3 linked regions of the Homo sapiens genome follow. The protein of the gene in region 2 interacts with the protein of the main gene of each other region in a pairwise test. Each region holds a gene or a part of one and is shown on either strand. Other genes may lie near its edges. The genes, in order: CDHR3, CXorf38 and NFYC.

Evidence for each region.
Region 1: the proteins of CXorf38 (region 2) and CDHR3 interact in binary tests that used the Homo sapiens proteins (3 or more experiments, as listed by UniProt).
Region 3: the proteins of CXorf38 (region 2) and NFYC interact in binary tests that used the Homo sapiens proteins (3 or more experiments, as listed by UniProt).

What each region holds. Positions count from the first base shown.
Region 1 is NC_000007.14:106,022,203-106,029,310, forward strand, and holds part of CDHR3 (cadherin-related family member 3 isoform 1 precursor), read left to right. Parts: coding exon 1-246; intron 247-2,178; coding exon 2,179-2,360; intron 2,361-4,479; coding exon 4,480-4,493; intron 4,494-6,348; coding exon 6,349-6,380; intron 6,381-7,108. UniProt on the Homo sapiens protein: Cadherins are calcium-dependent cell adhesion proteins.
Region 2 is NC_000023.11:40,644,454-40,652,166, forward strand, and holds the start of CXorf38 (uncharacterized protein CXorf38), read right to left. Parts: upstream 3,109-7,713; 5' UTR 3,068-3,108; coding exon 2,852-3,067; exon of another isoform or gene 2,689-2,851; coding exon 2,554-2,688; intron 1-2,553. Other genes in the region: MED14 (mediator of RNA polymerase II transcription subunit 14), read right to left, coding at 7,353-7,426.
Region 3 is NC_000001.11:40,757,623-40,764,730, reverse strand, and holds part of NFYC (nuclear transcription factor Y subunit gamma), read right to left. Parts: intron 6,611-7,108; coding exon 6,437-6,610; intron 1,844-6,436; coding exon 1,685-1,843; intron 1-1,684. UniProt on the Homo sapiens protein: Component of the sequence-specific heterotrimeric transcription factor (NF-Y) which specifically recognizes a 5'-CCAAT-3' box motif found in the promoters of its target genes.

The sequences.
Region 1 (7,108 bases), on a different chromosome or scaffold from region 2:
GTCAACAATCATTTCACCTTCTCTCCCAATGCTGGTTCCAATGTCACACGCCTGCTGCTTACATCTCGCTTTGACTATGCTGGTGGGTTTGATAAGATCTGGGACTACAAGCTACTTGTCTACGTAACTGATGACAACTTGATGTCTGACAGGAAGAAAGCGGAGGCTCTTGTTGAGACAGGAACAGTGACACTGAGTATTAAAGTCATTCCCCACCCAACCACTATCATCACCACGACCCCCAGGGTAAGGGCTTTAGGACCTGGAATCCCCAGGCACATTCCCTTGTGAGTTATGTTGATGGACTTCTTTCCCCGGCCTGGAGGTATGTGGGGTGGACTGAAGAGTTGAGGTATTAGGATGTTGCCAAAAATGGCAACCATGGGCTGGACTGGAGTAGCTGCAGGGTGGCAAAAATCTGGTGAGACCTCAGACTCATAACCGCTAACTCAACCACTAACATTTCCTGTTCTGGTAGAGAAGAGTGTGTTGTTTGTGCAGAGACTTGTGAGAGATCAGACCTCAACCATCTGTGTGGCTTGTGGCACAGGAGCTGATTTCCATGGGCATGCTGCCAGTTGCTACCTTCACAACCCCTCTCTGCTTGTTCAGAAGAGTCTTTGCAAGTCAATATCCATGAAATTAGGTTGCTTGCTTACTGCTGGGTGCTCTTTCCCACATCTTTTGAAGAATCACCAGGTACCAATCTGTACCCTACACCCCACCTCCGCTCCAAAAAAATTCATCCAATCTACAAATATCGATTTAATGCCTATAGTGTGCCAGTCACTTTAGCAAACAAGCCAAAAATGATCCCTGCTCTCAGAAAGCTTATTGTATAGGCGAGTGATTCTCTAAGTGCGGTCCCTAGACCATCAGAATCAGCACCACCTGGAAACTGGTTGGAAATGCAAATTCTCAGGCCCAGCCTAGATTATTAAAGTTATAGGTTACCCAACCATGATCATCACCATGACCTCCAGGGAAGGATGCTGGAACCTGGAATCCCCAACTCTATCCCCTAACCTAATGAATCCGAAGCTCTGGAGGTGGGGTCCAGTGAGCTGTGTTTTCAATCAGCCTTTCAGGGAATTCTAATGTGCATTAAAGTCTGAGAGCCACTGATCTAGAGGGGGAGATAGATTACAAACAAGTATTCAAATTGACAAAGTAAATACAGACTGTGGGAAAGGGTAGGAAGAAAATGACCAGGTGCTATCACAGAATTGGCCTGGAGAAGGAAGGGAGAGCCTTGAATCTGACAACAGGATTATCTTCCCTGCCCCTTGGAGGAACTGGCTTGCATCTATGCTGACTCATCTGTCCCCTTTCTTCCTCCTCCTCTTCCTCCTCCTCCTCCTCCTCCTAGTAGAAGCTGCACCCCTGGTCAGCAGCCTGATACCTGCAGCATGCCAGAAGGAAGATAATCAGAACCTTAGAGAACCCACTATGGAGGTGGCCAGCTTCTTCTCAGAGTCTTGCCAGGAGCTGGTTCATGCTTCTCTCTCCCATGCTCGAGTCAATATGACCCCAGTGAATGGAGGCATATGGCAACCCTAGGACTTTCCTTGTGGGAGGAGCTGGTAGGCTCTCCTGAGTGAGGAGTTCCCACCTTTCTTGGGCTCAGAGCATGACCTGATTGTGACATCTCCAATCCTGAAACCTCCGTAACTTGTTTGTTATCTGTCTCCAGCTCTAGGAAGCAGATGCTGAACTTGAGGCTTTGCTGTGATATCAGCCCACTGCTCTGGCAGTGGCAGCTTGTAGTTGAGAAAACACTGAAAAGCCTACAAGGCATTTAAAAAAACAACTTTCGTGGCTTATGCTGTCTCGGTGAGAGACAATGGCTATATTCGTCCCTGGGTTATGCCCAGATATGGCAGAAAAAAAGCCAATGGAGTTTTTTTTAGCTTTGGGGAAGGGGAAGACAGAGAATAAAATAAGGCCTAGAGTTGTTTTTCAGTTCCCTAAAATTTCTGGGTTTTGATCTAATGGATGTCTGCAAAGACTATAAATAAGGTGATGGGTTGAAGCAGCAAGAACTGTGAGCACACAGATGTCCAACTTATAGAGCAATAACAATAACAAAGAGTGGAATAAACACTCAACACGAGAGAGTGCTGAATGTCAAAATCACTACCACCCTCTACTCACCCTCCCTGCTCTCTGTTGTTCAAGCCCAGGGTCACCTATCAGGTCCTGAGGAAAAACGTTTACTCTCCATCTGCATGGTACGTGCCGTTTGTCATCACTTTGGGCTCCATATTGCTTCTGGGTCTCCTCGTGTACCTGGTCGTCCTATTGGCCAAAGCCATCCACAGACACTGCCCCTGCAAGACTGGGAAGAACAAGGAACCTCTGTAAGTTGCCAGTGGGCTGGGCCCTCTTCCCCACCTCCTTTAGGACACTGTTTCTGGTGACATCAGGAGAAGGAAAAATGGAGAATCAGGATTTCTCTACAAGGCAGGTTGCCTGGAGTGAAGGCAGGAAAAGGAGATACGGGGGAAGGAATCCCAGCTCCCCTCGGTCCTGGTGCACTTTCTTTGTCACCTGCTAGGCCAGGAAACCATCCTTTTGGCTTTCCCTGGCAACCTACTCTGTCCTTGAGGCTCTTAATAAGACTGGGGCATCAACCTTCTGATGACCTTGCCCTGGATAAAATCTTCAGCAAAGCCCTGTTGTAAATAGCGATAGAATATGCCGTGCTCTTATTTGTAGAATATTTAAAGGATAGTATGGAATTAAGGCAAGCACACAAAACCAATAAGGGAATTAAGCTTTTGTCTCCAGTGACTCAGCCGGGTTTTTGTGTGACCAAATAATTCTTGGTGTTTTGCTTGTGGTCTCAGTCTCTCACTCTTAAGGGTTGTAAACGCAGGCCTGTTTTCTCTTTTTCCAGTTTTCAGCTGCCCACTAATATGCCTCTTATTGTGCCAATCTGTGATGTGTCTTTTACTGGCTAAAGTGAGGTAGTAGAGTGACGTGAAGAGAGCACCAAAGAATCACAAACTTCTCCCAGAGCCAAGCTCCTTGATTCTCAGTAGCTCTTACAACTTACAGCTTAGATGGTTCTGAGCCTGAGTTTTGGAGTTAGATGGGCCTGAGCTCAAGTCTTAGCTCTACCATTTTCTTGGAATATGGCTTTGAGCAAGTGACCACCTCTGTGAACTTGAATTTTCTTATTTGTAAAATTAATCAACTAAATGAACAAATGTAAACAAGGCACTTAACTGTATTCCTGATATAGAGTAAATGCTTAGTACACTACCCAGCCAGTTTTTACAAATCTTGTTTCATTATTCTTCACAGATGAGTCCCAATGAGTTCAGGATTCTAGATTCCAAGTTTAGCTCTATGCCCAAGTATCTTGAGGTGTTGGAACCTCTGAGTTCTAGGATCTCTCAATGGCAAAAAGAGGGGGTGATAAGACATGTGTGCCTTTTACGGGTATTTTAAATATTAAATATTAACTGTCAAATAAGAAAATCTATGGATGAAAGACTGTATAAAAGTACAAGGCATTAGAATAAAGATGTGCGTTGCATTTTGCCATATTTATTGCGGAAGTTTGTTGCTATTGGCAACCTTGACTTCAAGGTAAGAAATCCTCGAGCATCTGCTGAAATTAAAAAAGGCATTTTTGTTTGAACTCTATTCACAAATTGATTTTTTTAAAAAAAAACAGCTCTAAAAGAGTAATTGCTTGTAAGGATGGTGGTGTACTGTACTGGGATTTGGATAGAAGTTCTTGAAGAAACAAATCCAATAGACACTGCAACTCTCATGTAATTTATGGCTAAACGTTAAATATGCACCTTGAACCTGGTTCTTTTAACTTATGTTGTAAATATTAATTGTTTTCAACATGGTTGACTTAAAAAAGAAAAACTAGCTAGAAAACCAGACTCAGACTCAACCTCTCTGGAAATTAGTTATACCATATGACAGCCAACTTTGTCAAATAGCAAAGAAGAAAATTAGGGTTACAGAGCTATAGAATCCAAGGTGATCATGGGAAATCTCGTAGGGTCTGAGTCCAGCTCTTCATGTGACAGGAAACCAAAATGTAACTGCCAGCTCTCAAACCTCCCTGTTGTGAGCCAAGCCTTCTGCTCTGCTGGCTCTTGGGGAGAAAGGGATAGGGCAAGAAGACTCGCTGGACAGTCTGACTAGGGCAGGCATGTCCTCACCAGGTTTTCTCATCAGAAACAATGTATTCCCTGAAGTTTATAAGGTGATACTTTTCAACTCATCAAATTCCCAGAACCTCCCTAGTCCAAAGCCAATAGTGATGAAGCTGCTTTGTTCGAAGCAGGCGTGGTGATCTAGTTTTCTTTCTGGCCCCTATCCCTGGCACCTCTTTCAGTCAACCCCTGTATCTCAAAGGGCATAGTTGCCCAAAGAACCCCATGGTGTCATGTGTGTGCCAGTGCAGCATACTTTCAAGTGAATTAATAGCCATTCTTTTTCCCCCCATAGGACAAAGAAAGGAGGTATGTACAGTACCTGTTTCCCTTGTCTGTTGTTTTTTGCTTGCTCTGTTGTGCTACGTAAAAAGGTTCCTACTCGGCAAAGAATCAGGCCGCGATCACATCTTGGAGCATTTTCAGCTGCATCTTCTGTGGCTGGAAGGAAGCGGAGGTCGGTTGCAGCTGGAGAATGGGAAGGGTGGGGGGACAGTGCCTTGGCCTGCCTGGATATCTCAATTTGGTCCTGCCTATGCCCTACCTAGAGCCCTCGCCAATCAGCTCAGCTGAACACCTAGGTCTGTCCCTTGCTGCATGGCACAGGAAGAAAGAACTCTCCGTGTGTTAAATGTAGACAGGACCTGCTTACTGCAGCCCATGGAGGGTGTCCTGAGGACAGCTAATGCTTTGTGCTGGACACAGGCCTCTTTTGAAAGAACAGATAAGGCTGGGCGCAGTGACTCACGCCTGTAATCCCAGCACTTTGAGAGGACGAGGTGGGTGGATCACAAGGTCAGGAGTTTGAGACCAGCCTGGCCAGCATGGTGAAACCCCCGTCTCTACTAAAAATACAAAAAATTAGCCGGGCATGGTGGCACGCACCTGTAGTCCCAGCTACTCGGGAGGCTGAGGCAGGAGAATTGCTTGAACCCAGCAGGTGGAGGTTGCTGTCAGCCAAGATCACGCCACTGCACTCCAGACTGGGCGACATAGTGAGACTCTGTCTCAAAAAAAAAAAAAAGAACAGATAATATTTGATTCCCAGATTCTAATGGATTTGATCATTTCCACAAATTATTTAGGTTAGACTAGTGAGAAGGGGGAGATGAGGGTGGTGAGATGGGCTGAGAGCTGACTGACTTCAGAGAAGTGGGTAAATTGGGAAGGTCCATCTGAGCAGCTCCAGGTCTGAGGAGGTGTCCTGGCTTGGCCTCAAGTAGACTCCAGAGTGTGGGGGAGACAGGACAAAGAATTGGACAGTGTTTTAATTAAAAAAAAAAAAAGTTTGCTTTAATCACTCCATCTACAGGCATGTGTCTGACATGCTTAAGGCATGTCTCAACAGGGTTAGAAATTTGATTATAGTGGTTATTGATCATATTGACAGAGATGATTTTAATAAATGAGATTTTCACAAACTGTCTCTAATCCCACTTTTTAAAAAGGGGATGGGGGCTGGGCATGGTGGCTCACACTTATAATCCCAGCACTCTGGGAGGCCAAGGCTAGAGGATCACTTGAGCCCAGAAGTTCGAGACCAGCTTGGGCAAGATAGTGAAACCCTGTCTGTAGAAAAAAAATTTTTAAATTAGCTGGGTGTGGTAGTGTACGCCTGTAGTCTTAGCTACTGGGGAGATAGCTGAGAGGATCACTTGAGCTCAAGAGGTCAAGGCTGCAGCGAGTTGTGACCGCACTCTAGCCTGGACGACAAGAGTGAGACCCTGTCTTAAAATAAAATAAAATAAAATAAAATAAAATAAAATAAAATAAAATAAAATAAAATAAAATAAAAGGGCTTGGGAATTAATGCACAAAACCCACACCTTATGAACAGAGGTATCCAATCCCATCTTTCTTTCTTATCTTAAAAGCCATGTAAAAGCCAGTTTTCTAGGTCCACTGATAATAAGCTAGAAAAAGAATAAAAAACAACTAAATTGTTCGTATGTTATTGTGTGTGTGTGTATACATATGTGTACGTATTTTTTTCTGAGAAGATGGAAAGTTGTCAAGAAACATATCTATAGACAGAACAATTCTTTGCTGTGTCTGCAAGACTGAGATCGAAGCCTATTTAGGGGAAATACCGTTGTGGAGGTGGAATTTTAAGGTCAATTTACCACCCAAGAAGCTTAACTTCTGCCTGTTCTGTTCTCTGCAGAAACGAAGACTGCAGAGAGAGACGTCGTGGTGGTGAGTATGGGCAGTGTGGGGCACCAGGCATAGACGCTGGGGGATAGGGGCTCCCGTCTCCCCCGAAGGCAGGCCTGCCACAGCCTTGTGGGCATGTTTATCATTCAGGGAGGTGCTTGTGTTTGGCTACTGGAACAGATTGCTGTGTGACGAGCTCCTGATAGAATTTGTTCCCTCCACTGAACATGCCTGCTGATATATTTGCAGAAGAACAGGATTTCATAAATATTGAGTAGTGGTGTTTATTATCTATACCAGCTCTCCACGAGAGTGAGTTGAGGGAGTGAAGCTTAAAGACCAAAACTAGTGCTTCAGCCTCCAGTGAGATTTAAATTTTCTTTCTTTCTTTCTTTCTTTCTTTCTTTCTTTCTTTCTTTCTTTCTTTCTTTCTTTCTTTCTTTCTTTCTTTCTTTTTAAGACACAGTTTCACTCTGTTGCTCAGGCTGGAGTGGAGTAGCACAATCTCGGCTCACTGCAACCTCTGCCTCCTAGACTCAAGCGATTCTCATGCCTCGGCCTCCCAAGTAGCTGGGATTACAGACACGTGCCACCACGCCTGGCTAATTTTTTGTATTATTAGTAGAGATGGGGTTTCACCATGTTGGCCAGGCTGGTCTTGAACTCCTGACCTCAAGTGATCCACCCACTGTGGCCTCCCAAAGTGCTGGGATTATAGGCATGAGCCACTGCGCCCAGCTGATTTAAACTTTCTTTGCTCTTCCACTACC
Region 2 (7,713 bases):
CGAGTTCCGCATTCATAGAATCAACCAACTGTGGATGAAAAATTCTCAGAAAAATAATACAACAGTAAAAAGTAATCGAAATTTTTTAAAAATATAGCATAACGACTATTTACATAGCACTTACATTCTATCAAGTATTATAAGTAATCTAGAGATGATTTAAAGTACATAGGAGAATGTATGTAAGTAATATGCAAATACCACATACATCATTTTATATCAGGGACTTGAGCATCTGTGGATTTTGGTATCCTTGGGGGTCTTGGAAGCAATACCCCATGGATAAGGAGAGACAACTATGTATGTCCAAGGGCCTCCATCAATTCCGTGAAGCATGAGCAAGGGCGGAGGAACGGGAGCAGGGATTTGCCAGGGAAAAGTAGTAGTCTCCAGAAACTGAAGCCTAGAGAGAGATGTGGCCAGACCGCTGGGGCTCATGATCAAGAATGAAAGTGAAACCAGTCAGTTCCCTTGTGAGATTCTTTCCCACTAATCAGAAGCAGAAAATGTCATCAGGACTGGAGTTGGGCCAGGCAAGTTCAGAGAAAGGAGAAAAAAAAAGCTGAGATAACAGCAAGGGACGGATTATAATGATGGGCCATGGAATCTGGGCTAGCTGAGGTGACAAAGGCAGGCAGGAGGACAGAGGGTGCTGGGTATTCAGGAAGCAGTGGAAGCCTCAAAGAGGCGGAAGTAGTATGGGGCACAGGGTTGGGGGCAGGGGTGCATGAATAAGTGTGCCAAAGGCCAGCAGGATGTTAGACACTGAGACTTTCTGTGCCAAGGTCCAGGGTGTGGGCATGCAAGCCGGAGGCTGAGGGGGAGTGAAGCAGAGGATGCTGGAATCAGGAGCCCAGAAACTGAGAGGATGGGGTTGGACTAGAAGGTCTGTAGGTGACAGCAACCAAGAGGAGCAAAGAGTGGTATAAGGAGGTAGTACAGGCTACAAGAGGATTCCAATGGTGTGAAAGCAGCAACGCAGACCAAACAGATGAGGGACAGGCATTGTAAAGGGCAGAGTTTTCTTTCTTTCTGTTTTTTTTCTCTTTTCTAGGTAGAAGTAGAAGTCAGCAACTCTATGGCTGCAGTGGAAAAAAATGGGGAAGATGGTGTAGGTGTGGTGGGTTTACCGGCTCGTGATACCCAAAAGTCTGGGGACCCCTGATACAGTTCAATTTTTTAAGACAGGGTCTTGCTCTGTCACCCAGGCTGGAATGCAGTGGTGTGATCACGGCTCACTGCAGCCTCGACTTCCCAGGCTCCAGTGATCCTCTCACCTCAGCCTCCTGAGTAGCTGGGACTACAGGCATGCACCACCACACCCAGCTAATTTTTGTATTTTTTTGTAGAGACGGGGTTTTGCCATGTTATCCAGGGTGGTCTTGAACTCCTGAGCTCAAGCCATCCTCCCACCTTGGCCTCCCAAAGTGCTGGGATTACAGGCATGAGCCACCGCGCCCGGCCCCAATTCCTTTCATTTTTTTTTTTTTTTTTTTTTTTTTTTTTTTTTTTTTTTTTTTTTGAGACGGAGTCTCGTTCTGTCGCCCAGGCGGGAGTGCAGTGGCGCGATCTCCGCTCACTGCAAGCTCCGCCTCCCGGGTTCACGCCATTCTCCTGCCTCAGCCTCCCGAGTAGCTGGGACTACAGGCGCCCGCCACTGCGCCCGGCTAATTTTTTTGTATTTTTAGTAGAGACGGGGTTTCACCGTGGTCTCGATCTCCTGACCTCATGATCCGCCCGCCTCGGCCTCCCAAAGTGCTGGGATTACAGGCGTGAGCCACTGCGCCCGGCCGTCCTTTCATTTTTGAGATTGGGGAGCACAAGCTGGCCCAGTGTCACACCACGGCAGCTGATCCAGGACTCAGATCATCTGCTTCCCAGGCACTGCTCCTTTCCAGTGCCCACCCTGTGCCTGCTGATAACTACTGGCATGTAGACTGACTGCTAAAGTCAATTTGTGTTAGGAAGCCACTTCTGGCTGTCCCTCTCCGTCCCTTACTGGGCAAAAAAATTTCCTACTCGATCTACTTAGTAAGTGACATTGCCAAGATCTGAAGACAGATCCGGCTGCCTACCCCATTCCCAGCTACCCAAAGTGCCTTTAACTGGGCACTTAAGGTGCTATTTTAGCCCTAACTTCCCTTGGCTTACTCTGTCATCCTTACGGCATCCTATAGCCAAAAAAGAGCTGATGAGCTGTTCAGCGAGCCTTACCCTCAAACAGGCCACACAAGAGTCTCCCTCCCTCCCTGCCTGTGCTCATGATGCTCGCTCTGCATCTTGCCCCAGTATCTCTTGTAGAACTCTTTCCTGTAACTTTCCAAGCAGGGGTAACAAACTCAAATGCCCTCAGGAAGCAGACGGGTAGAAGAAAGCTTCTACTTCACTAAGCTGGGTTGGGTCCCGCATACCACCCCTGAACCGCCTAGACCCTTGATCAATCTCTCTCTCTGCATCTGTTTATGAGGCCCCGGCGACCACAAGACCAGATAGCCACCCCGAGTGCTGGGTGACCCGCCGCTTCCTCCTTCCGTCCCCGCCTCAGGCGCTTACCTTGGCCACCTCCCAGGCGTCCACGGGCCAGCGGCCCGGCCGGCAGTTTCCCCAGTGCACATCTCCATTTCTGTTGACATGATGTCTCAAAATCTCCCTTTTCCATTCAGCGCACACCTGACACTGAGGCTGAAACTACAGGGGGCGGCGGTGAGGAGGGGCCCAGGAGGGAGGGACGTCGCGGTGGGCCCCGCATCGCGGAGGGAACAGGACACTTGCGCTCTGGGTCTGGGACAGGAACGGGGATGAGGAGGGGTGGGGTGGGGGCGGTGGTCAAGGCCCCGAGCCAGGTGCTCACCTGGCGGGCGCGAGGGCTGCACCGTGAGCCGCCGCGGCAGACGGCGCGGGGCCCCAGGCCGGGGGCTGCGGCGAGTAGGCCGCGGTGGAAGGAGAGCACCTCGCGGCCGACGAAACCCTGCAGGCAGCTGCGCAGCAGTAACAGGCAGTGGCCCGCCTTCACCCAGTTCTTGTACTCGGCGCAGTTGAGGCGCGCCGCTAGCTCCGACAGCACCATGTCTCCCACTTGGAACCAGGAGGTTGCGGGGCGTGGCGGACGGCAGTGCGCAGGCGCGGAGCCTGGGAAGTACCCGAGGCAGCGGCGCCTGCGCCGGCGGCAGCGACGCCTGCGCCTGCGCGGCGCGGTGCCACCGATCCCGGGGCGGGGCATCTTGACTTCCGGGGCACGTCGGCTCCACCCCACTTGGGTGACGTCTGACGTCTGACGTCTAACAACTTTGGTGCTTGGGGAAGCAGTTAACTATTTGAAACCCTTAGGCCCTCTTCGTCCCCCAAACAGAGACCCTGTCAGCATCCGATTCGACTCCCTCTCCTAATGTAGGGCACTTCTGTTTTAACTTTTTTTTATTGTCCAGATGTACAAGGTGCTCAGGGCACATTGCTTGAATCGTGTATGTTCTTTGCATTATACAATTCTAGAGTTACTGGTTCCTAAGCCCACAGACCAGCTGTAGCAAATTGAGGTATTAGTGAAACGTGACCGCTGGCTGCCTGCGGTGTGCCAAGCTAACCCAAAACTCAAAATCCCCCGCCACTGGACCACCCAGAAGGGGGCGTTTGCCTGTTTAGGGCAACACATCACTTGGATTCTAGAAGGCTGCACACCTGAGCCAGATAAGGGCATCCTGAAGCACCTAGCAAAGGTTAGACGATAATTATCTAGTATTCTTGATTATATGATAATTAGTGCTCCTTGCACATGGAAGTCTGATTTAAGTTCCAAAGAAGTGCCACAAAGGTCAGAAGGCACTGGGATTGTCAACTCCAAGTGACAAGTCAGGTCAGTTTTAGTTGTTTTTAATGAGCTTTCTGAGCTTGGAAAACATGTCAAAATTGTGTGTAGTTAAAAGCCTCTGAGGAAAGAGTCTAAACATTAAACCTTCCCGACTGTGGTTCACAGCAAAAATGTCCAGTGTTTAGGAGCACTAGCTCAGACTCAAACTGCCCCTTCTTAGCAGTTTGATCTTAAGCAACCTTAATTTGATCTCAGGCAAATTACATTTCTCTGGGCCTCCATTTACTCATTTTTAAGAAGAGGATATCAATAACCTACCACATTGGGTTGTTGTGAGGATTAAATACACATTGAAATATTAAGAAAATGCCTAGCACACAGTAAGCTCTCAGTAAATACTTGCTATTATTTTATATTGACCTAAATATGCCCTTTCATCAATCAGTTATATTCTTGGGCAAGGTATTTTAACAAATCACTGGCCACTTGGAAGTGGAGGCAACTTGCAGAAAATTGTGAGCATACCATGGAGTTCCTGGAGTTGTGCAGCACAGTGCTGGCTGGCCTCTGCTAACTTTGTCTTAATAACCTCAATGCTAAATCCATCCTAAGTAAATTTAAATCACATCCTTAGACACACTGTCCATTCTCAAACCGAATGAAAAAAAAATTCCACAAGAAACAATGAAATACACATTAACATTTTCCCTCTATGTCCCTTGAATGTAAGTTCTCTTAAAATTTTCTGTATACTGATTTTATATCAAGAACACTTGGATGATAAATAAACATTAAGGTAAAATGTAATAGGCACTTCTTTTGGGGGGAAAAACTATGAAAGGAACAACTTTTTATATTGAAATTGCATCAGAATCCAGGGTAGCAAAGTTATAACTTCTTGAAGTTATCAAATTAACCACAGTCCAAAGAATGGCTGTTAGTATCCTTTGGCTGAACAGATTACTGTGTTAATTAGAACACAGTTATTAGTGGTTCTTAAATTCAAAGTCATATAAATTTTAGTTTATGCTTGCACTTAACTCACTCAGTTAATTTTCAAACATAAGGTTCGACTCCTGTTATTAGCGACTTGACACGTTCTGCTGAAGCTCTCACTTTTCTTCTAATTCTGAAAGTACTTTTATACATTCTGAAATGGCATTTCAGCAGATGGAAAAATGAAGGTGGCAAATCAGGACCAATTTCTTATTTCAAGGTTAAATTAATACTAAACCAGACTATTAATGAAAACATCTTCATCAAAATTAACTAGAGAGTTGGTAGTTCTCTGAAACTTTGTATAAATTTTATTTATTACTGTAAATACTAAAATCACATTGAAAACACCTTAAAGTTAAGTCCCAACCCGATTATTAGAGAAAATCACTTGGGCATCCAGTCCCCTTGATCGAACCTGGGTAACAAAAGAGGCAAAAGACATGATTTGTGATGAAACTTACTATTCAAATGCTAAATGTTTTCAAGCTTTAATAAGGTATATATCAATTCCAAGTACCAAGCATAATATAAAAATTCAAATTCATGGGTTTACTCTTAATAAGCATCAAAAGCAAATTTTGCGCACTGAATCCTATCTTACTCTTGATTGGCACAATGCATTCAGAGATGAGTTATAATTAGGAAAAAAGAGTGTCCACTGAATGCATCATGTGTAAAAATGCAATTAACATTTCAAAACCACATTAAAAGGGAAAATACCTAAAAAGTTAACTCTTAATAAAATTATTTGAAACAATATTATCCTGCAGATAAAAATACATTTCTTGTATATACATGTAGATTTCTACATGAAAGAAAAGATTCAGCTCCAAATAGAAAAGGGCTGACCCTTGATAAAGACATCTTAGATTGCCAAACTGATGTGATTACCACTGTAAGAACTAAAAACAGAAGGATAAAAAGATTAAGTTAAAGGAAGGATAAAAGTTTAGTCAACTGCTCCTGAACAGTGGCAGAGTTGGGTGAGAAGTGGGAGATGAAGGCAGAAATAAGACAAAGAAGAAAGGCAAAGAAGGCTTCAACTCTGATTGAAAATGAGTGGAGAATCAAACAAAGTTGAGAACAGATATGATATAGGTACAGTGAGATACTTGAAACTAGAATTTGATAGTTGATAGTTATAGAAGCTCAATTAAATCATCTTGAAGTGGAATTAGACAAAGCATCTACATTTTAATGGAGAACCAGTATTACAGTGACCAGGTAACTCGGCATGGTATTATCACTTAAAAATTTTTCCTAAATACCATGAAGTCGGTAGAAGACCTTTGCATCAGACCATGTTCTTTGAAGCTTAAAAAAGTCCCTGACTGACTAGGAAAGACAGCACAGTGCTCCAAAAAGAAACCCTGCAGAGATGTATTAATACCAAAAACTCCATTTGACCCTGGACAGGCCCAGGATTCGGGATTCTTCACAATGAGGGGAATGGACCAGGTTTCTTCCAAGCAAAACATTCTATCGTTTTGTTGACAATGAATTAAATTGAAATTGTTTAGAACAATCCCAATTTTGGTGGGGAAGGAAAGGAGGATAAGTTAAGCAAGATAAAGAAAGCTCACAGAAACTTCATGCAGAGGTACAGCATTAAAGTTCTTTGTTTCCTAATTAATGTTGTATGCAGAAGTATTCTGTAAACTAAATTTTCCTGACAGAAAAGTTCCCACATCCTCAACAGATGAGAATGATTGCATTATTTGGGATCCTTGATCAATACGAACCACATACTGTCCCTTCTCAAAGACTAAGTTCCTTATTTTTCACCCAAATCCTATATATTGAAAGACAACCAAGGTGCTAAATGTTAACCACTAGTCAAGTTAGGAATGTCTGAAGAAAATATATTAACCTTGACATAAAGAAGATGTTTTTGGTCAAATTTCAGACATGTATTATTATAAATTAATAACTGGCTCCATCCACCAGGTTAAAGATGAAGGGAGGGCCTAAGATGTCTCTAGAGTTTATATACACACAAGTGAGTGTCACTGTTTTGTTTTGTTTTTGACCTAGTTTTATTAAATATTGCTTCCTTGGGGTGTGTTTATAACAACTCCCAGAACATTTCATGTAAGGATTCAAAGCGGTCATATTAAAATACAGCTTCAATATAAAGTTTATCACAGTTTTACAGTATTCAAAAATGACAGACCTGCCTTAAAAAACAAAACAAAAACCAAAAAAGGACTATTACACCCAAAACATAAGAAAACAATTAAATAAACAAGTTTGGCATTTTCATAACTTTATAGTATAAAACAGAATATTAAATTTATTACTGGCAAACGGACACTGATTTATTTCCTTTGAAATGTGTCCCATTTAAACACACTATACAAGTTCATTATACAAAAGATGGATGATCATTTTGATGAAAGAAGTGCACCCTGAAAATTTTTGCCAGTTTAGAATATTTAGCTCTTAAAGTTTAAAAAAAAAGTCCTTTTCCTTTTTTAAACTGAAGGCTGAATTCAGATTTTTTTTGTTGTCTCATCTGTCAGCCTTCCTGGTTTAAAAACAATAGTGTCTATGGACGCCCACCAGGGGGCAGTGTAAGATTAGCCATTAAATCACGAACAGCTGCAAATATTGTGCATTCACCTGCAACAGAGAAAAATGGTCATTAGCTATTCACAACACAGGAAAGATGTTAACACACCGGTAAGGGAAGGGGTAATTAAATCTAAAATTAGTGAGAACTTTAAAGATCAAAATAAAAGACAATTTTAACTGCCCAGATTATTGGGGATTAAGCTGTGGTGTTAAGTATCAGATTATATTTGGTTTGGATTTTTTTTCTCAGGAGGAAACTTCAAGCAAGTCCCAGTTAGGTTTGTATTTAGGAAGATATGTCTAGAGTTTCTGTTTAGAAACACTGTAGCATTAGA
Region 3 (7,108 bases), on a different chromosome or scaffold from region 2:
AAGTTTCCTTCCTGAAGCTCATCACTATTAGGAACATTCCAATGAGCTGCCTAAAGAGTCTGGAAATGAAGACTCCTACAGAAGGTGCCTGAGCCAGTGAAGATGAAGTAGTGAATTCTGCAACAAATCTTCTGGGCTAAAGCTCTGTGCCCCAGAGAGTTAAAGTATCTGCAAGGTGGAACTCTTCTCTGTCTTAAATGAACCTGTGGTGGTGCCTTCGCTTGCAAAAATGAGAACCATTCAACAGAAATCTTGGGGTTGAGGACTGAAACAATGAAGCAAGGCAGAGCTCAGTCATCTGCAATCCTGGGTATCGTAAGCACACGTGAGAGAGGTAGAGAAAGAGACATACACACTCCACTTTCCTAAGCTTTCTCTTGGCCTATTACTATGTTAACTTCAGATGAAGAACAATTCCTAAACTGATCTCAGGATACTTTTAGAGTTATTTTCACAGAGGAAGTGGTTAACCAAGTCTACGTGAGTTTCTATACCTGCCTACGTTTCATTTATGACAAAAATGGCAAAGGGCAGGGAATAGAAGGACTGCTCTGTTTCACTCACTTTCCAGTTTTGGGGGGTCAAAATGACCAATGTAAAGACTGCAAGTGTTAAGACAAGGACACATTTTACAAAAGGAGTACAAATAAAAAAGCCAACAAATCTAAGAAATGAAATCCCTCAAGGCACACAGGAAGCAGCAGTCCACAGTAAAGGAATAGATAAGTTATATGAAAGCCAAAAATACACTTTGCTGCAGGCTCCACTGGGAACTGACTCATGAATATGCAACAAGTGTATTTATGGCCTTCCCTATACGCCTCCCTCTTATCCTCTGCTAATCAAATACAGGACTGCCTCACAGGGCCTTTGGGCCTTGGCATGGGTAGTGGTTACAATGATTTCCCTGCATAGGTAGAATGAGGGGAAATCGAGAGAAGCCGCCCAATCGTGGTGAACCTGAACCTAGATTAAAGGAAAGCAGGGAACAAACACAGTGAAGCAAGTTGTGGTCAGGAACACTGGGCATATAGGTTAAAAACAAAACAAACACACACACGCATATATATAAATAAGTACTGAGGGCTGGGCGTGATGGCTCATGCCTGTAATCCCAGCACTTTGGGAGGCCGAGGCGGGCGGATCACCTGAGGTTAGGAGTTAGAGACCAGCCTGGCCAACACTGTGAAACCCCATCTCTACTAAAAATACAAAAATCAGCCGGGCATAGTGGCACGTGCCTATAATCCCAGCTACTCGGGAGGCTGAGGCAGGAGAATCGCTTGAACCTGGGAGGCGGAAGCTGCAGTGAGCTGAGATCAAGCCACTGCACTTCATCAGTCTGAGTGACACAGCAAGACCTGTCTCCTAAAAAGAAAAAAAGGATTATGCATGCGTGTGATATATATCTCTATATATATATCAAGGTATATATATAGCTACAGATATATATATCAAGGTATATATATAGCTATAGATATACATATCAAGGTATATATAGAGACATACATATATATATCAAGGTATATATATAGCTATAGATATATATATCAAGGTATATATATAGCTATAGATATACATATCAAGGTATATATAGAGATATACATATATATATCAAGGTATATATATCTTTAAGTATTTCCTTCTATAAAGTTGTAAAGACAGACCTCAGGGCAGGACTCACCGGGATCTGCTGGATCTCTCCTGTGTTAGTGATGATCTGCTGCATCACCTGCATGGTCTGTCCAGTGCCACTCTGGGCCTGTTGGGCTTGACCCTGTGGCTGAGCCTGGACAATCTGCACCTGCTGACCTTCTCCAACCTGCATTGTCACAGGTGTGGTCTGAAAGGAAGAGTTATGAGAATGCTGCGTGAGTTCAGGCTCAGAGCCCACAGGATTACCGAGAGGTTAATAACGAGCAATGTGCTGGGAGCAAACCCTCTCCATGAATGCCTAAGGTCATCTCAGTACTAGTAATAACCTACAGAGTCCTCTGGGTTTACAGCATTGCTGAAGTTACTCTCCAAAACGAAAGAAAAACCAAAAATATTTTTAGGCTCACAGTACAAATATTTGCATGGGTCCCAAACATAAATCTCTGTGCCCCAAATGCTGCAACTTTTCACAGCCCCTTTAGTGATAAGGCACATACACTACAGAAAAAATCAAAAGCAACCATGACCGTTTACTTCAGAAATAGCCAAAGTCAAGTCTGGGGCAGGTGAATTTGGAGGGGAACATTAAATGGAAAGGGTCAGTATGAATTTATTTAGTTCAGGGTCATGTGCTCTTTCTTAGGCATGTAAGACACTGAGAGAAAAATAAAGCACAGGGGTGCATCTCCAAGGCGGGCCCTAGTGCACGCTGGCTCTCACCCCATTCAAGCTGCAGAGCAATTCCTGCCCACACTGGCCAGATGGCTGCTCTGGACCACAGTATGGCTTCCCAAAGGAGAGCAAACACTGCTAACTCACTGGGCACTGTTAAGACACAGACTCTTAACTAAGTCTACCCCTAATTAATAGAATTTAAGAAAGCAAGAACTCTAACTTTCTAAAAATAGCAATCTCAGATTTAAGAAATTTCTGCCCAATGTGTATGACTTGGCAGATTCTGTCTCTCACACACAATGGTTGTAGTCCTATGAAATGTACTCTTTTGAGACGGTAAAGACACAAGCTGCCAAAAGGGTCAATTATTCTTTCAAATCTCAAACCTTTAGTACTGTTTGTGACTTTTACAGGTTACCTAGAGCAGTGAGCCTATCTGGGCTCATCTGGTGGTGGTAGTGATGGGGGGTGGCGGGGGTGTGGGCGTGGGTGGAGCCTTTTAAACTACACCTGTACACCCAATCCCTGACTTGAATTCCATCACTATCTCTCCTCACTTTGAATTAATCACCTCAATAAGAAGACTATGGAACTCTCAATGAATCATAAACTTCAACCGATGTTGCTATTCTGATGTTCTTAATTCTGACTGCATAGGTTACTGAAAATTACAACTATGCATCCAAAGTTACAAGGGAAGGGGATGTGTTCTGGGAACGACAGATGAGATTCAAGGGATTACTACGGAGAAATTACTATAAACTGGAGGAGGGCCAAAAAGAAAGACGACAGAGTGTTCTAAAAGTACATGCAGTGGGCTAGGCTAACAGAAAACATTTCTTCCATTCTTGTACCACAATTTTCAACTCAGCCTATTCCCAACCTCCAGAAATAAGTTTTCAATTTATGACAGAAAACACAGGATTAATTTTACCAAAATATGCATTCTTTCCAACTCTGCTTTAATACATATGTATTCTGTCCTACGAAGGATATTTGCACTCAACTTGAAATAGCCATCACTACGGGTCCAGGGAGGTGTGACACAGCACAAGGCCACCCTGAAGCAGCAGGATGGTGAAACAACAGCCAGGAAATGCTGGGAAGGACCAACTTCACCATCCTCACAAGCCTTATCAGCTCCAAGCTGAGCACGTCTGGGTTGGCAGAGAGGAGCACAGATGAAATTCTCGCTGACTAAAAAGAAATGCATGCTGCCAACTCATCACTGTACTGTATCAACCCAATTTTCCCGAGAGGATTTCCAAGGTATTTCTAAATCATTTCAGGAAAATGAGGGCTTGTGTTAGCATGGCAGCTGTCAAATCATGTATGGTGTGCCCTGCTGTCAGGGCACAACAGCCATGAGCTTCTTAGGATGATCAGCCAATCAGAGCCTGCCCTTGGCAGACTCCCTCTAAGTTCATTCTGTAAAGGGATAAAGCCTTTGGCAGGTAAAGTTTTCACCACTGCAGAGGCACAAGCATTAGCCAAAGAAGGTCCCTTAGGCATCATGATACAGTCGAGGCCTTGAGCCAGTGACTGAGCAGCCATTATCTTTGAACCCTCCTGCCTAGCACAGTGTCTGGCATAGAACAAGCACTCAATACATTTTTGTTATATGGATAAGTAAAATGAGCAGAGAATAAATCCTAAAATCATAATTACCTTTTTTTTTTTTTGAGACAGTCTCGCTCTGTCACCCAGATTGGAGTGCAGTGGCACGATCTCAGCTTACTGCAACATCCGCCTCCCAGGTTCAAGAGATTCTCCTGCCTCAGCCTCCCCGGGTAGCTGGGACTATAGGCGCCCGCCACCACGCCCGGCTAATTTTTGTATTTTTAGTAGAGATGGGGTTTCACCATATTGGCCAGGCTGGTCTTGAACTCCTGGCTTTGTGATCCGCCCACCTCGGCCTCCCAAAGTACTGGGATTACAGGTGTGAGCCACTACGCCCAGCCATAATTACTTATTTTTAATTCTCTGTGTGTTTGTTTTTGAGACAAGGTCTTGCCATATTGCCCAGGCTGGTCTCCAACTCCCGGGCCCATGCGACCCTCCTGCTTTGGCCTCCCAAAGTGATGGGATTATAGGTGTGAGCCACCGCACCTGGCCAAATCATAATTACTTAAATCTACCTCCTAACTGGGCATGGTGGCTCATGCCTGTCATCCCACCACTGTGGGAGGCCAAGGTGGGAGGATGGCATAAAGCCAGGAGTTTGAGACCAGCCTGGGAAACATAATGAGACCCCATCTCCACAAAAAAATTAAAAATTATCCAGGTGTGGTGGCACATGCCTGGGAGTCCCAGCTCCTCGGGAGGCTGAGGCAGAAGGACTGCTTGAGCCCAGTAGTTTGAAGCTGCAGTAAGCTATGATTGTGCTACTACACTCCAGCCTGAGTGACGAAGTGAGAACTTATCTTTAAAAAAACATCAATCAATCAATCTACCTCTACTCCATTTTTTTTTCTTCTAGGCAAACTCAGCTCCTTATTAGAATATACGAGGCTGTCCAGGATGTGTTTACTATCTATCTTTCCAAACTTGCGTAGATGGTCCCCTACGCTGACTACTTTCCTACGGCCCCCTGTACTGTTTCTCACCTCTGAGCCTTTGCCTGTGCTGTGCCCTCTACTGGCAATACCACCCTTTCCCACTTTCTTTGATTAATTTCCACTGTTCCCCAAGACTCATATTATTCCCTTCAGAAACATTATCTGACCACCTCGTTCACATCTTTCTCAGCTACTCATCCCCTCCCCTACATACATACACACACATATACATATATATACACACATATATAATACACACACACATACACACACACACACACATATACTTTTTTTTGTTTTTTTTTTGAGACAGGATCTTGCTCTGTCACCCTGGCTGGAGTGCAATGGCACAATCACAGCTCACTGTAGCCTTGACCTCCTTGGCTCAAGCGATCCTCCCAACTCAGCCTCTTAAGTAGCTGGGGCCATAAGAGCATGCCACCATGGCTGGCTAATGTTCTGATGTTCTGGTGGAGACAAGGTCTCACCATGTTGCCCAGGCTGGTCTTGAACACGTGGGCTCAAGCAATCCTCCTGCCTCGGCCTCCCAAAGTGCTGGAATTACAGACATGAGCCACCACATGCCCCTGCCTTTTTTTTTTTTTTTTAATTAAAGAAGAGGTCTTGCTGTGCTGCCCAGGCTGAAGTGCAGTGGCATGATCCTACCTCACTGTAACCTCAAACTCCTGGGTTCCTCCCACATTGGCCTCCCAAAGTGTTGGGATTACAGGCATGAGCCACTGCGCTGAGCCAAGGTACTTCTTTTAATGTGTTCCTTTAACACCCTGTACACATTCCCACGTGGTGGTACAACCTTTAAGTATTTGTATCCCCAACTAAATTGTGAATTCCTTGAAAATAAGGACTGTTTTATTCATGCTTGTATCCCCAATACATAGCACAGAACTTTACCCTCAGAGGATGCTCAGTGTTTGATGAATAAATAATGATTGACAGAGAATTTGGATTCAGAGCTCATAGTACAGAGTTCTCTGCAGCCTCACATGACCCCCAACAAACATGAATGCTACTGCTCTTAACACTACTACTGGGGAGAGAAAGAGTCCTCTGATTACTATCGTAAAAAGAGAAGGTCACTTAACACAAATATGGGACAGAGAAATGACGGGGAGAAGGAGTATGCAACTTGGCAATGATACCTAATCTCTCCCTTTAAGGGCACAAATTCCACTTCTCACACAGACACACAGACAGCAGGCATGGAGTTCACTTTAGCACCTCTACTCTTCATAAGGCATTTCAGACATTTTTTTTTCCCTTCTAAAATTTCTGAGCTAATAGGGATCCTGGAGAACATACTGTCTAGTACACTTTCCTCATTTGACCTTTGAGAAAAACAGGGTCCAGAGAGATTAGGGTAACATCTCACCCCAGTAGCTGAATCTGGGGAAAAGTTCCAGTTTCCAGACTTTAAATCCAGTGCTCTATAATGATCTGGCTGCCTCTCTGCCCTCATCAAGCTCTGCCCATCCAAAAACCTAAGGGGCACTGTCTTGCTGGATGGGCATCCTCAGCAGCTCACAGACCTGGCCCTGCTGAGGCTGTGCGATGATGATCTGCCCAGGCTGGATGGTGGTCGTGGAGCTGGTGGTCTGCTGGCCTTGCTGCTGGCCCTGGACTTGGACAGCGGTGGGTTGCTGAGCCAGCGTGAAATAGTACTGGACTGGCTCGGCAGGAGTTACAGACTGGCGCACCTCCTCCTGTTGGGTGGAAAGAGAGGCAGGTAAGAGGAAAAGAACCAACTCAGCAGCCGCCACAGTGAATTTCCACTCTTCCCCCAAACAGGCTATGTGCAGTTGCCTGCTGAATGCTGAGCTCTCCACATTTGAAGCCAAAGGAAAGTGGAATTCAAAGAGACCAGTTATGCTAAATCAAACTAAAAATAACAGATCCTATAGGCTTCACAAAACATACAGCCAATTTCTGAAGTACGAAATAATCACCCATTGCATGATAAGTTGCAAACGGGCAAATAAGTACCGTAACTAAAAACCACACACCAGCAGTGCTTGTCAGTAAATGCTGTCAAGGCCTGTGATCTGAGAACAGTGCTAATTGCAAGTGTTGGGAAGATGCTACCCAAACATCATGCCTCTCAGGCCTGGTCCCAATCTCCCAAATAGGCAGCACTCTTCTCGTTTTAGCCCCACCACTTCAAGGGGGACAGAACAGGTTAATGGGAAACAGGGCTTTTCCTG